Linked DNA regions of Homo sapiens: region 2 is linked to region 1. The links come from fine-mapping of genetic effects on gene expression. Tissue or cell type: cerebellar hemisphere. Region 1 holds a variant in brackets; the other region holds the start of a gene. All regions are shown on one strand. Distances are from middle to middle.

The links. PIP is the estimated chance that this variant, and not a neighbour inherited with it, causes the effect.
Region 2: KLHL23 starts here. The variant in region 1 is fine-mapped to the expression of KLHL23 in cerebellar hemisphere (GTEx, PIP above 0.99).

The regions. Positions count from the first base shown.
Region 1 is chr2:169,405,571-169,413,678 of GRCh38, reverse strand. No RefSeq gene overlaps it. Among named protein-coding and RNA genes, the nearest start is that of LRP2, 47 kb to the right of the region's middle. The variant G/A (reference allele first, on the strand shown) is at 4,136.
Region 2 is chr2:169,730,128-169,738,235 of GRCh38, reverse strand. KLHL23 (kelch like family member 23) reads right to left here and starts at 4,404. Exons shown (of 4, transcript NM_144711.6): 1 at 4,149-4,404; 2 at 2,009-3,223. The coding sequence starts at 3,221. The region is part of intron 3 of PHOSPHO2-KLHL23 (PHOSPHO2-KLHL23 readthrough); the gene reads right to left. RefSeq lists silencers at 3,714-3,893, 4,004-4,073, 4,094-4,533.

The DNA of each region.
Region 1 (8,108 bases):
TTTCTTTCTCCTTTTCCCACTCCCCTTTTTCTTCTTTCCTCCTTCTGCTTTGGCCCTTGAAGAGTCAGAAAACACAGCTAGCAAGATAGCAAATAGAAGAGAAGGAGCAGAAATCTAGGCTGGGAATATAGCATTGTGTTCCATTCTTTGGTTACCTACGTACAAAGACCACAATTGAAAGGGGGTGAAATTTAACTGTGAAATCAGATCCAATGTTTTGGTAATTATTAATACCTGGGAATGAACACATTCATTTCCCAAATTGAGACTTTGTTTGCAACTTGATGTGACCATTTGGGCTTTTTATAATCTAGAAATGACCAGAAAAGTCTGGAACTTTCTGAATTTCATCCAGGATGAAAGGAAGAGGGAGCTGGGAAGCAGACCTTTTACTTACATTTGAACTTCCCTTCTTCCTCCAACCTAGGAAGGTCTTTTACCCTCCTTAAAGGGGTAACAGTCTGTCCTTAACTCCTTTTTTTTTTTTTTTTGAGACGGAGTCTCACTCTGTCACCCAGGCTGGAGTGCAGTGGCGCGCAATCTCGGCTCACTGCAACTTCCAACCTCCACCTCCTGGGTTCAAGCGATTCTCGTGCCTCAGTCTCCTGAGTAGCTGGTATTACAGGTGTGCACCACCATGCCCAGCTATTTTTTTTCTATTTTTGGTAGAGACGGGGTTTCACCACATTGGCCAGGCTGGTCTTGAACTCCTGACCTCAAGTGATCCACCTGCCTCGGCCTCCCAAAGTACTGGATTACAGGGATGGGTCACCGTGCCTGGCCTGCCCTTACTTTCTATATTGCACCATTGCTATTGCTAATTTAAAACTCTATGTTTAGTCCTTTAGTTAAATTATGTTGCAATTCAAAACAAAATCATCACGGTATTTTCTCAAGCACTTGCAACTCAATCCCTTGGCTTTGGCTTTCAGACTGTTGTGTCTTCTGTGAGCTGATAAAGCAACTCAGTTGTCTTCTTTGTTCTAGGCTAGGTAAGTAGAAAGCTTCAGGGAAACCAGGAATTACTAGGGGTTGTGACACCAAAACTGCGTCAGTTGAATATTTTAAAAATATTATTTTGTCTTATACCATTATTAGGCAGACCCATGACACTTATTTCCACTGGTCTCCCTTTGGTTAACAAGGAAGGGGGGTATGTGTGCCATTTGTAAGGTTGTCTCTGAGTTATACAAGTAGATGTAGAGATATCCGTTGATTCCATTGAAGCAATTGTGGCTAGAGAGGAATTAATGCTTCCTTCACTTAGTAGACTCATGAAATCTCAGTTGGTGAAACCAAGTAAAATAAAATGAAATTAAATAACAATCAAAGCCAAATGGCACTAGAGGAAATGCTAGGGGAAGATCTTTATTACTAATCAAGATAGCAATTCTAAATGCCACGTGAACTTGGGACAATATATGTAAGAATTATCATTATCTCAGTTAAGGTGCTGGGAGCTCTTTTTCTATCCAATTCCACAGATCCTACTCATTGGTAAAAAAAAAATGATGGAAGGTTAGGTGTAGATAGAGCAATGATTCAAATAAACAGCTTTGGGCTGTAGCTCCTAAAAGAACATGCAATATAATGGTTGAATCATCATTCTGAAACCAACTACGTGGACACTTAGACACATAATAGTGTTTATTACTATTACCGAACATGAAGTACATTTTAATGATTTGAGACTGAAACAATTGGATTTGGTCTTATTGGCCAACCTCCTTGAAAGATCTTTGGTGTTTGCACCATTCTTTCAGACTACTTACTTCGACAACCGTGTAGATCAATTGCCATTAGTTTCTTAATCGCAATGTGATATAAATATAGGTGTTGTAGGGAAAAATGTGTGCTTCGATGAAAAACTAGGCACTGTTTAGGTGACACCATTTCATGTTATCTGGTTCTGATTCTTTGGGGGCTATATTCAAGTTTGTAAATTGTAGATAACTAATGACAATACAAAATAATTCTTGTCTATAGACACACGAATTTTGTTCTGTACAGTAAAGGTTCTGCTGCCTACCCTCTCCACTGCAGAGGAAGCTCATTTTGCCTTCACTTGTGCATTAGTTTCAATATTTCTTTATTCCATATAAATTTGTGCTTTTTTTGACTTCTCCTTTGGGTATAGTCAAAAAAGGGTATAACATCTCTCCAATTTTTTCATTGAGTTAAATAAAATCTTTTTTTTTTTGCAACAGAGTTTCACTGTGTCACCCAGGCTGAAGTGCAGTGACGCCATCTCAGCTCACTGTAACCTCTGTCTTCTGGGCTCAAGTGATACTCCCACCTCAGCCTCCCCAGTAACTGGGACTACAGGTGTGCACCACCACATTTGGCTAATTTTTGTATTTTTTGGTAGAGATGGGTTTTCATCATGTTGCCCAGGCTGATCTTGAACTTCTGGGTTCAAGCAATCTGCTTACCTTGGCCTCCCAAAGTGCTGAGATTACAGGCATGAGCCACTGTGTCCAGCCTACAATCTTTAATGTATTTTCATTTTTATATCTGTATGGACGTATGATTTTACCTTTTTTGGGGAATTATCTTTTTACAGTGTTGGCAACCTAAAAAAAATACAATAGAGAAAACTATCCCTAAATATGTTGGGTTTACTCAGGAATAGAAGTAAGGATTATAATCCGGAATGCATGAAATGGCAAGGTAACAGTGCATTTGGTAAGGGAAGAGTAAAGGGAAAAGTTTATTAGGAAAAAATCAATTTACATAAGATGCTTAGAAACAAGAGTTTTTTGGGTCCAGAGGTTCAAAGCCAGAGTTGTCAGCTCGTTGGTGGAGGTACCACTACTGGGCAAGTGTTCTTCTGAGAACATCTTATCTGAGTTTTTGTAGCCCTAAAGAATGTCTAGTGATGAAACTTAGCAAAGCAGGAGATGCATGAAGGATGCAAAAGGGTTTTTAGAAAGTTCTTGGAAACATTTCTTATCTCAGACATGTAAGCATGAGCCCTGTCTCCTTTTGCCCTTCCTATCCCTATTTGTTTGGGGTTCACAGTGTATTGTCAAATAGTTGTGTCTGGCAGTTCATGTGTTGCTAACCAGTGACATAAAGCTGTGATTATTATAGCAGAGGTTTGGCATGGAGTTATGAGGCTTTAATCAAATTTATTGCTTCTTTCCCTTGAAGCTCAGTGGATTTGCTCTGATCCTCACCTAAGCTACAGTTCTTAGACAAAAAAGAATAATTAATCATAGCTAATATTTACTGACCAGTTATGTGCCAAGTACTGTAATAAGCACTTGACATATATTATCTCAATTGTCATATATGGGCAACATGAAAAAAAAAGTCAAGGAACATACAGGCTTGGGACAAGATAATCCCTATGGCTGCAAAACTACTGTGGGATCCCTCAGCGACTCCCTCAGCCCACCCCTCTGTCACTGAACCAGAGGACAACAGGAGCACAAAAGAACCAGAGTTGCAACATCAAATTACAACAGGCAATGCCACCTGTGCATACCTGGGCCCCAGTGCATCCAGAGTGAGTCCCTTTATAATGACATCAAGGAGAGATCATCTCCATTAGAGGCTTAGGAAAGTGTAAGGGCCAGTTTCTATATTTAACTGGAAGACCCCTGATGTTTCTTGGTTGCAAATTAAGAAGAATCCGAGTGGTTCTTTGGCATGAAAATCTCTAAACACACAATATTATAGCAGTAAGTCATGAACAAGCCCTGACATAAGGTGACATCCATGACCCTGTCAACATTGATGGGAACTTGTGTGGAAACCAACTTCTGTCCTCTTTGAAGTCTGAAGTTTTGAGTAGGTTCCAGCTGTTTTGCTAGGGCACTGACACTAATTAGTTCTGATCTCTACCCTTTAAGACTCTCTTAGCAATTTGGCTGTTGCACAAGTGCTGCCATGGGCATTTACTACCATTCCTCATGAATATGGTGAAGTATTTGGCTTCAGTTTCCTTTCTTCATCAGCTCTATTGAGGTATAATTAACAAATAAAAATAATATATATTCAAGATGTACAAGGTGATGTTTCAGTATACGCTTTTTTTTTTTTTTGAGATGGAGTTTTGTTCTTGTTGCCCAGGCTAGAGTACAATGGCGTGATCTCGGCTCACCACAACCTCCGCCTCCCGGGTTCAACC[G/A]ATTCTCCTGCCTCAGCCTTCCGAGCAGCTGGGATTACAGGCATGCGCCACCATGCCTGGCTAATTTTTTGTATTTTTAGTAGAGACGGGGTTTCTCCATGTTGGTCAGGTTGGTCTCAAACTCCTGACCTCAGGTGATCCGCCCGCCTCGGCCTCCCAAAGTGCTGGGATTACAGGCGTGAGCCACCACACCTGGACTCGGTATATGTTTATATTCTGAAATTATTTCCACAATGAAACTAATTAACATATCCATCACCTCACATAGTTTTGTCTGTGTATGTGTGTAGTAAGAATACTTAAGATCTGCTCTCTCAGCAAATTTCAAGTATACAATGCAGCATTGCTGACTATTGTCACCGTGTTACATGAGATCTCCAGGATGGACTCATCTGATAACTGAAGGTTTTTACCTTTGACCACTGGCTCCTCATTTCCCCACCATAGTTTTTGACACAGAAGAAAACAATGCCAAACATGTGAAGCATGGTTACTTGTTGAAGGATAACCGTACCCCATCCGTCTTGCCTTGCTGAATCACTTTGCAGCAAACTAAGTCCGCTTTTGATATTTGTTCAGTTCTCAGACAGGAAGGGAGAGAGAAATGTGGTGTGTGATCACATGTTAAAGTCTAATGAGAGCAAAGGTGTCACAAGAGTCTGGCACATTTCTCTGGACACTCTCTTGGTGATGGGGACAGAGTTACCCCCCCATCTAACCTTGATAATAGTTGCTTAAATAGTTGCTGCACAGATGCCTCATAGAAAACACAGTCACACTTTTTTTTTTTTTGAGTCAGGGTCTTACTGTGTCACTCAGGCTGGAGTGCAGTAGTGTGATAGCTCACTGCAACCTCTGCCTCCTGTGTTCAAGCGATTCTTGTGCCCTAGCCTTCCGAGTAGCTGGGTTTACAGGCATGTGCCACCATACCCAGCTAATTTTTTTGTATTTGTAGTAGAGATGGGGTTTCTCCATGTTGGCCAGGCTGGTCTTAAACTCCTGACCTCAAGTGATCTGCCCACCTTGGCCTCCCAAAGTGCTGGGATTACAGACGTGAACCACCATGACTTGCCCATACTTTATTTTTTAATCCAGGAGTTGAAGCCACTTTGCTAGACCCTGTGCTTACCTTGGCTATTGGTCCGAATTTTGCTAAATTGATTCATACATTTGTATAATTGGAACTATAGCTAAAGATAACTATGTTCACCAGCACATGAGAAGCACAGGGCATTTATTTTAAAGTCAGGGCTTTAAGTCTATAGCAAAGTGACCTGTAACAAAATGTATGGCATCATTCCCATTCCGTGAGATCCACAAAACTCCCTCTTAGGATATCATAGTTAATTTGTGCTTTCTAAATATCTTTTCCAAATGCCTATAAAAACTTGATTGTGGAGCTTTTTCCATTTCTCAGAACTTGGAGAATTAGGGTGAACTCATTAAAATTTCATGTGGATTATTGCCCTCTACTGGGATTTCATATCAATGTCCCTGAGTTTAAAATGGGCTCGGGGATACCCTCCCACACTGATTCCTTTATATCTATGGAGATTAAAAAGACTCCTGCTACTCACAGATGTTTTCCATCTAAATGACTGCTTTGTCTCTAAAGACAAGCCTAGATGCCTACTGTGGTTTTCTTCCCCCCCTTAATGGTGAATCCCAGTTATCCATCTGAATGAAATATGGTGTTTTCCAAAGTAATAAATAATTTGTCAATTCCTTAAATCATCATTCTGGGGTAATAGGCTTTGCTGTGAAGCATGCTGGAACCTCAGAACATTGGCTGGCATGAAACAGGAGGACACCGAGATTGAGTGGAGAGAGAAAGGGAAGTGTGTATGCGGGAAGGCTGTGCAACACGATGCCCTGGGCCTGAAGAGTGTAGCAATATGGGATTGCCAGGCAATTAGTAAATCCGGGTACATGCATGTGTCATACCGAACACTCCCGTAAGCTCCAATGTGCTCCATTTAGTAGGTGAGTCTCGAAGCAGAATACAGGAATGGATGCCAGTACAGCGAGCGGTTCCTGGCAACACCCCTGCAAGGGTAGAGAGATAGGGTCCAGAATCTGAGGGTAGATCAGGCAGGAATCAGACAGGGAATCAAGGTGGGAAATGTTTTAGAAAGAGCATGTGATTTGGAGCCAGATTAGTATTTTCTTTCCTAGCTGTCTGACTTTGGGGAGCTATTTAACCTCTGGCTCTCAGTTTCTGTAACTGTAAAATGAAATAATAATCACCACTTCACAGGTTGTTTTAAGGAATGGAAATAATGTATACAAAATACCCAGGACAGCAGTAGGCCCAAAATATGGCACCTATTTTTAGCTAACAGGGCATCAGTCCTAGTAAAGGACTAGAGCTCCAAACAGGTGAGCCAAAGCAGACGCTGTCTTAGTCAGGTAGGAAATGCTGCAATCTGGCCACCTGAAATTCCAAAGGCGGATGGAGCAAACCATCCACCTGGTCTATAGGTCAGAGGTCCTAAGGCTGCTGATAAGGAATAGCTCAGGGTGGGTCCATGCCTGGGAACATTCTGTCTTTGGATCAGAGAAGACAGCAAATGTCCGTGCTTTTTGTTGTTGAGACCACCTGTGGACTAGTAGAGTGAGCCTTGGTCTCTTCTCTAAAGTGACTAGCCTTTGGGCTGGAAGGACACTGGTTCTCAAGTGTATGTGTGTGTGTGAGATAATTTGATCGTTGTTGGGGAGACAATAGCGATAATGATAGTTATTTGTAGAATCCTTTCCCTAACCTATATTATTGCATGCTAATCTTGCAACGAGTGTAAGTAATATCATTCTTACTTAATGTATGAGGAAAATAAGATATAGGGTTGTCAAGTGACATGTCCATGTCACAGTTGGGGCTAGGATCTAGGTAGCATTCCTTTTGGACCAGAGCTTTGCCCACTGTATAGATTTTAAAATAAAATATATTTAATTCTTGATACTGGTAATAGGATATATTTTTCTCTGTGGTTTGTGGTTTTTAAAAACCATTTAGTAACAACTATACATGTGTAACTATTAATTGTTTCTCTGAATAGGCTACACATGGAGTAACCACGTGTGTGGAAAATTTCATTATGGAATTTATATTTCCAGTCCCAGGGAAACCTTGTCTGACAGTACATTTTTTGAGGCCGCCCATCAGCTCAGTAAAGAGAGCAGGGTGGCCCTAGATTTGTCAGTAGCCAGCTGTGTGGCTTTAAAAATCCAGGAGACTGGATCTTTCTAGTAGTTCCCTAAGTGACCTTTGAAACCTTCTTTCAGCTCTAAGTAATAATAATGCCATGCCAAGCACTGCGTTTTATGGACAATATCATTTGTATGTATCATCACCCTCCTTTGACAGAAGAGGACCCTGAGGTTCAACAAGATTAGGACTCTTGCCAAGGTCACGCCAGCACTAATGAAACCACAGTTTTCCAATGCAGGATTGGGTTCATCAAAGCCCTTGCTCTTTCCACTGTGCCAGATCACCAGTTTGTCTCTCTCTCATTTACTGGTGAGAGTCAGATAACTGTTAGGGTAATAGCTTCCAGAATAGGGGGTACCCACCTCAGGCATGTGCAAGATACTCCATTCAGGAGGAGAAGGGAATTGCCTCCATTTTGATTTATATGTATCTTATACTGAAAAATTTCTATTTGGGGACATATTTTACAATGTACATAATATGTAGTAAAATAGCATGTGTACGTGATTTATAAATAAGTTAATTTACACACATCATATATGGAGGTTTGTAGGGTATGTACTACATGTTTTTTTCTTTCCTGAAAGGCGAAGAATGTGGAGAGCTTTGAGTTTTCATCTAATTTTAATTTTTGATAAAAAAGTGATTGTGGCAGTAAATAGGCCATTAAAAGTGTATAATAGGCCAGGCTCAGTGCCTCATGCCCGTAATCCCAGCATTTTGGGAGGTCAAGGTGGGTGGATCACCTGAGCCCAGGAGTTTGAG
Region 2 (8,108 bases), 320 kb before region 1:
TGTATGAGTCCACCCACCAAAACAAGCAGTAGTCAAAACTGCACATAACTGGCAGTGTTACCTCTCCCTGGGATGACTAGATATAAACAAGAATCAAAGCTTTGAGTTCAAAGTATAAAACTGGAATTTCAGACCCAGTTAGCAGGTGAGGGAGGACTTTGAGGTATGAGGGTCTCCTACTCCACTCAAGGTTAACGCAAGCATGCATATGGCTTTTGTTTCACAGTAGATACACCATCGCAGCATATCTTTTTTCAACAAGCACTGTTCTAAATATAAATTTTTAAAATTTCAGTAAAGTAATAAGCTTTCATTCTCAAAGAAATATACTCTGAACCCACCCTTGTAATCCCAGCACTTTGGGAGGCCAAGGTGGGGGGATCACTTGAGGTCAGGAGTTCAAGACCAGCCTGGCCAACATGGTGAAACCCCGTCTCTACTAAAAATACAAAAATTACCTAGGTGTGGTGGCACATGCCTGTAATCCCAGCTACTCAGGAGGCTGAGGCAGGAGAACTGCTTGAACCCGGGAGGCAGAGGTTGCAGTGAGCCAAGATCACGCCACTGCATTCCAGCCTGGGAGACAGAGTGAGACTCCATCTCAAAAAAAAAAAAAGAAAAAGAAAAAGAAATATACTCTGAACCACAAAACCATTGAAACTGTTATATCATCCTTAAAAAACAGAATCAGAAATGTATGCTAGTTTACAATAGCTCCTTAAATATATGGACTTTTCTTATTTCTTTTGCAGAAGAGGGGTCAGGACATTCAGAGCCCTCCTGGAATCGGCAAGTAGTGGTGAGACTCAGGCAAAGACAAAAACCAGGGGAGCAACAGCACCGGGCTTTCTGCTACCTTCTCCCACCCTGGTGTGACAGTGGTCACAACTTCACATGAAATCAATTTCTGCTCTATAAGAGCTGACATGTCCTTCAATACCGACATTCAGGACAATCATGCGTAACATTTATAGCATGCTTACTCTGTGTCAGACACTGTTCTAGGCACTTCACAAGCATAGATTAATTTAATCCTCTCAATGATCCGAGACTAGGTAATATTGTCATCCCCATTATACAGATGACAAAACGGGGGCACAGGGTGATTAAACAATTTGCCAGAGCTCATCAGCAAGTAAGAGGAAAGCAGGGATCTGGATGCAGGCAGTTTAGCTTCAGAGGCAGCGTGCCTGATCCCAAGACTGTTCTGCCTCTCAGCTTCCTGCCTGTCATCCAAGGATCATACCAGGTCAGATTTCCAGACCAGGTCAAATTCCCACACTCTCACTAGCATTAAAAAAGAAACAGAAAAGCCTGGGAAGAAACATTTGGGACAAAATGATACAAATTTGGTAACGACCTACCAGTTGTTTTTGTACAACTCCTCAGCACCAATGAATAAATACAATGAAATAAGATTCCCGTTTAACTTTTTTTCCAGTGGGAGAGAAGGAGAGCAAGGCAAACAAATCGCCAAACACAGCAGAAAATAGTGTTTATCAGACAGATACCGAGACCCAGGGGTGTGCCGGGTTCTGTGGGCCACATGAGGGAGAGTATGGTGTCTGCCCCTCTCAGAGAGGACTGAATTGCAAAAGCAGACGTTGTCTCTAGTTCCTGGAAGAATGTACTTTGTTACATCCTGTAGGGACCAAACCTTCCAAGGTTTTAATGAAGGACCTCTTGAGAGCTGATCAGCGTATTTTGAGAGGAAAAAGTTGAATAGCAGAATTTTAAAGGGTTCAATTTTAAGAACATGAAAAAATGAAAAACTGTCCAGATTTGTCTCTTCATCTAGCCCTTGACTTGAATATAAATTCTCATAACTCTCAGACAAGTTGGGAACTATGCTATACTGTTTTTATCTGGAACATTCTGTGTAGCATTATTTGTATAATTAACTATAGTTCCTAGATAGCATCCCAAAGTGATAAATTCAAGAGAAGTGAGACTGCTGGCCTAGCTCCAGACATCTAAAAAATACAAAATAAACATAATCTCCACTTACCTTTAATCATGTTTGCAATAGGAATCCATTTCTCTTTTAAAGGATCATAGAACTCAGCCTCTTCTGCTGGAGCCCCTTTTCTGTAACCACCTAAAGCATAGACACAGCCACCCAAGGTGACTGCACAGTGGTAATACCTGGCATTGAGCATTGGCAAACCTTCTGTCCATTCATCACTTTCACTGTTATAGATCCACACTGTGTCAAGAGCTTCTATGTTATCCGTCCTGTAGCCCCCAGTTACATAAATGTTGGGTCCTAAACATGTAACACCATAGCTCTCCCTGGTATAATCTGGTATTTCTGCTCCCTGAATCCAAACATTTGTCAAAGGATCCCATATGTGAACCTCTGATAAAGGATGCCAGTAATAGCCTCCAATTATATACATTGTGGCTGTGGACCTCTGGGAAATCTCTTTATGCATGGGATTCAAGGCATTGTATATTAGGGAGCGGATCTTATTTTCGGTGAGCAGGCAGCTTCTTTGAAGGCCTAAGGCTGTTTTTAAGTACACTGGATCTATATCAATGTTGATATAGCTCAGTAGATTATAGAGGCATTCAATTCGATTTTCTACATCATGAGCAGTCCACTTAATAACTGGCTCTATGATAGCTTCTTCTTTCCAAACACTGAGATTCTTTCTGGACAAGATAAAGAGAAACTTTTCAAGGCTGATTTCCAGAAATTCTTCTTGTTGCCACACTTCCTTAAACTTTGAACATAGAATTCTTCGAGATTCCTTCTCTAGTTCTGGACACACATGAAATTCTGCAAAGGAGTGCATTCCAATACAATTATCAATATCCAAGTGCCTTACCAAAAACCGCTCACAAGCCTTCTTTACTGAAAGGAACTGTAGCAGATCCGCTGCCTCAAGCAGGCTTTGAACATTTCTTTTAGTTATTTCAATTTGGGAAGTGTATGCATAATTTACAAGGCCTTCCAGAATATCATGGTGGATGCCAGAGAGTTTTATTTTATTTTTAAATTTTTCTTTCATGTCAGCTGTGAACATTGCCTTAAAATAATTGCTGCAAGCAGCTAAAACGGCTCGGTGACAATGGAAAATTATGCCTGAAGGACACTGAAGAGTAATATCAGTAAATAATCCATCCAAGTAAAATGTTCTGAATGCATCCAGAAAATCCACTGGATGTGTTGAATCCTTGAAAAGATAAATATAATCTTCTTGTCCTTTTAGAGCCATGGCTGCAATAAATATGAAATAACAAATGTGTTTTCAATGTTGCACATTCTCTCAAATAATCAACGCTAAATAACTTGACTATCATCGGATATACTCCAAAACTGGACTAAGTTCAGCATCTAAATAATAAATGCAAAATGTGGATGGACTGTTTGATCATTTATATGGTGGTCAATTTAAATTCAGGGTAGCTCGGAGCTTGAAATGAGGCTCCTGGATTTTTCAGTAGTCCTTTTGAGAGTACTGATTTGCTATTCCATTCACCGCAATCTACCCTGGCCTGGCGTTCGGAGATGAGATCCCACACTAGGCAAGGCAAGTGTCCGAGGGTCACCCCACTCGAGGCCGGACCTCAGCTGTCTCGGCTCGGCCCCAATTCAACCTTTTCCCCAAGCTCGTCTCCCTTTCAAATCACATCGAAATGCCAAGAAAGGGATGATGGAAATATAAATGGACAAGAAGAGGTCTCGGAAAAGGGAAATCCCGAGCCCTTTCGCTTAAGGAAGGAGAGAAAGGAAGGCAGCTCGGCGCAGCCCTTGCAGCCCTCGCCCCCTCCCCCGCGCCCGCCGCAGGGGTTTCCGCGCGCCCCGCGCCTGGGCCCCGGCCCACGTTCCCGCCCGGAGACCGCCCCGCCCCGGGGCCAGGAGCGGGGCTGGACTCGAGGGCGCCGCGTGCCGCCCGCGGGCCCGGTGCCCGCGTCCCTCTGCCCGGCGCTCCGCGCAGGTGTGGGAAGGACGCCGCAGGCAGCCCCAGCGCAACGCGTTCGGCCCGGCCCGGCGCCCGCGCGGCCATTGTCTGCGCTCCTCTCCCGCGCGGCCTCGCTGCCCGCGCCCGGCCCCGCTGCCCGCGCCCGGCCCCGCTCCCCGCGCCCGGCCCCGCTCGCTCCCAGCAGGCCGGCCTCGGGCTGCGGGTCCACACCGCACCTACCTCCCGCCGGGGCTCGGGACGCGGCGCTGGCCCGCGGGCTAGTAGCGAGCGGGAGCGGGGACGCCTCCGGCCCCTCTGACCATCTTTGGAAGAGGCGCTCGGAAGCCGCCAGCTAGTGCCGCTCCACCCCACAAGCAGCTCCTATTTTGGTGTCCCGGCGGCTCCCCCGCCTCCACCCGAACAGCCCCCCGCACGGTCTGGGCGCGAGGCCACTCGCGGGAACTCCCCCGTCGCCGGGCCGTGCGGCGAGCGGGGCGGGGCGTGCAGGCGTGAGCACGGCTCGGCCCCTCCCCAGCGGCGCCCCCCACAGCAGGTGGGACTGCTTCCCCAGGAGACAGCGCGCGCCGCCGCCTTCCCCTTCCTTGGCTCGCTCTCTGTCCCGCGCGCTCTCTCACACCCGGTCGAGCGTCTTCTCTTAGATAAACTCTGAGTCCTGAATTATTAATAACACCATATATGAGTGTGTGTGTGTGTGTGTGTGTGTGCGCGCGCGCGCGTGTGCATGTGTGTACACTCCCCTCCCTCAGTAGGCTTCGCCAGCCCAGACTCAATCGTGAGGACAGAGAAGGGGGAAAGAGTGGAGAGAATGGGGCACAACTAAAGGTCAGGGATTGGAGGCGCCGTTGAAATGCCAGAAGTAGCCGGCCTTTCCCACAAACGCCATCCCACCCCCAGCAAAGCACTCAGGAGGGCGCCTTGGTGCTGGTGAGCACATCAGGGGTTAAGCTGAAGCTTTGAGAGAAACTTTGGGCAGCCGGGGCCAAGGCGAAGTCCAGGCGAAGTCCAGTCGTGCTAAGATTCAGGTTATTGTATTTAGAGCATAGCAGCTGGAAGGAGCAGCCTTTCTGGTGACGGCCACTCTAGTCACAGATGTCTATGTGGTACACAAAGTTCATTTTCTTGTTCCAACTAAAGCCAGTATCAAATATTTTTGTATATCATTCATTCATTCATTCGCAAGATTTTATTAAGTGCTTCTAGTGCCTGATAGGGATAGACACTAGTAGTGATAAGAGTGTTGACAGATGGTCCCTAGCTCACAGGGACCTTCACCACCACCAGAGGACCATGTGTTTCCCAGAGTATGGTCTCAGAAACGCAATATACATGAATGGCCAGATAGTATGTGACAACAGAACTCTGAACCACATAAGAAGCCCAGGAAGCCAGACCACAACCTTGGTAGCAGCTGAACCAGAACAGTCAGGAAGTAGTCAACGACTGGCAATTTCCCTATTTTTTTTCTTTTTTGAGACAGGGTCTTGCTATGTTGCCCAGCCTGGAATGTAGTCGCACGATCTTAGCTCACTGCAGCCTCGATCTCCTGGTCTCAAGAGATCCTCTGCCTCAACCTCCCAAGTACCTACGACTACAGATGTGCAATTTTTGAAAAATTTTAAATATTTTTTCATGACAGGGTCTCACTATGTTGCCCAGGCTGGTCTCAAACTCCTGGACTCAAGCGATCTTCCTGCCTGGGACTTCCAAAGTGCAACTTCCCTATTTTTACCCCTAGTTCCACCTCTGCACCAACCAGAGAAAGCCAAATATGTTCCGCAAACCCATCACATAAAATACCCCCGCTTCTAGTAGCCCACCTGCAGCTTTCCCATGCCAACAACTTCCAATCAGAGCATACCGGGGGCTTTTCTTCACTTCTATAAAGCTTTCCCACTCGTCTGCCCCACCTTTGAGCCTCTGACAAAGTGATGGTGAGTGGGACTCCCTTCTACAGCAAACTCTGAATAAATAGCATCTGTTGGTTCTCCTGTGGGTGGGTTTTAGTTTAATTCCACAAGTCAGATCATCTTAATTGAATTATGTAAGATGCTGGTTATGCAGCCCCCACAACTACCACACCCCACGCACAGACGTCTGCGGGGTGGAGACCTAGGGATCTGCATTCTAATCAAGGGCAGCAGGTGATTCTTATGGACAAATAAGAGAATGTGTTGGACCCAAAAGGAAGAAGGATGAAAGTTTAACATCCCAACATCTGGTAAACAGTATAGTTAGAAAAGGAAAGCATATGAGATTTAGTTTCGGGCTTAAGGCTCATCTCTGCCACTTATCCAACATATAGCCTCTCACAAATTACTAAACTTCTCTGATCCTTCGTCTTCAGATCTGTAAAACACAGACAACATGGATACTTTCTCAACCTAACCTAAGGTTATTGGAAAGACAAATTAATAATGAAGCACTTAGGACTTGATATATAAATGTTAGCTACTATAATGAAAGAATATTTACACTTAATTCTGCATCACAACCTTAATTTGGAAATTAGCATCTTCTTAACATTTCTTCAGAAATTATGAACTTCATAGTTAATAGTAATTATAGCTTGCCCTTCATAACTGATAGTGATGCTGTTGTCACTGTTGCCATTCAAGGACACAATTGTGACTGATTGAAGGAGACTTCTCTCCATTTTTGTCACTGAAGTGTAGAGATGGCTGTTTTTGCAGCTATAATTACTGTTTGCCAAGTTTGATGTATAAAAAAATATAGGCTCCATCTAACTTGGAGTAAGGGCTTCTGGAATCATAACTACATGTAATAATAAATGATTCATGAATAATAGAATTCACTATATTCTCATTTATGCAGTTATTTCAGATGGCTGCATGAACCAACTAAAACTCTTGCTTTCATTTCGTGATGTTCCCTGGTTGTGAATTACTACTTAAAAGTGTATATCAGTGTATATTACATATTAGACTATTATACTGCTTCACTTTGCTAAGAGAAGAGCAGGTCCTGAAGGGTATTGCCTGGCATAGTTCCTCTTTACCATGTGCTTATCAAAGAGACCATTGCAAATGCTGATAGATTTGATGCATTCAGAAACATATAATTAGCATTCATAAATCAAATAAATTAATGATACCGTTCAAGAAAACAGATGTGCCATCTGTGGTTCCAAGTCTTAAAGAAATAAAGTGCTGCCATGGAAATGAGACATAAATGATTTGGCAGATACTAAGCTTGGCATGGAGTTAGATGACTTATTGACATCACACTTCAGCTTTCAAAGGACTCCGAGTTCTAAAAATAATGATTTTATTTATAATTTTTACCTTATTAGTACATCTTTCCACTAAGTACAGCCATGCCATTAAATGTTTGATATGCTGTGATATCATTAACAATGTGTGTAGATGATGGGCATAGATAGAACATTTTGTATACTTCATTTACATACTGGATTAAACAAGTTGCTGCCAAGTTAAAAAAAAAAAAAAAAGGCCAGGCCCATTGGCTCACGCCTGTAATCCCAGCACTTTGGGAGACCGAGGCAGGCAGATCATGAGGTCAGGAGTTTAAGACCATCCTGACCAACATGGTGAAACCCCATCTCTACTAAAAATACAAAAATTAGCCAGGTGTGGTGGTATACGCCTATAATCCCAGCCACTCAGGAGGCTGAGGCAGGAGAATCTCTTGAACCTGGGAGGCGGAGGTTACAGTGAGCCAAGATTGCGCCATAGCACTCCAGCCTGGGCGACAGAGTGAGACTCCGTCTCAAAATAAAAAACAATAGTAGGTAAAATGTATAAGGCTACCACATACAGCTTTGCAAATTGTGCACTGCACAATTCCAGCTCATGCAACTTAAGTAGAGTACAGTGTAAACACTGCTCTCAGGAGTTGTATAGTACACAACCAACGCAGGTATCTGTGGCTGCCCTGCAGCCGATGTGTCTTGGTAAAACCTTTTTTGGTATGTTTCCTGTAAAATAAGAAAGTGAACATTCTAATAACTAGGTAAAAATGCTTTTGCAAGTCACAGGTTTCCAATTCCTGGTTTCCAGCAAAAGTGAAAGAGGATTTTTGGCAAATAATTTGGAGGGAATGACAAAATGAATGGCATTACTATAAAAAAGGTTTTTTGTTTGTTTTTTTTTTTTTGAGACGGAGTCTTACTCTGTCACCCAGGCTGGAGTGCAATGGTGT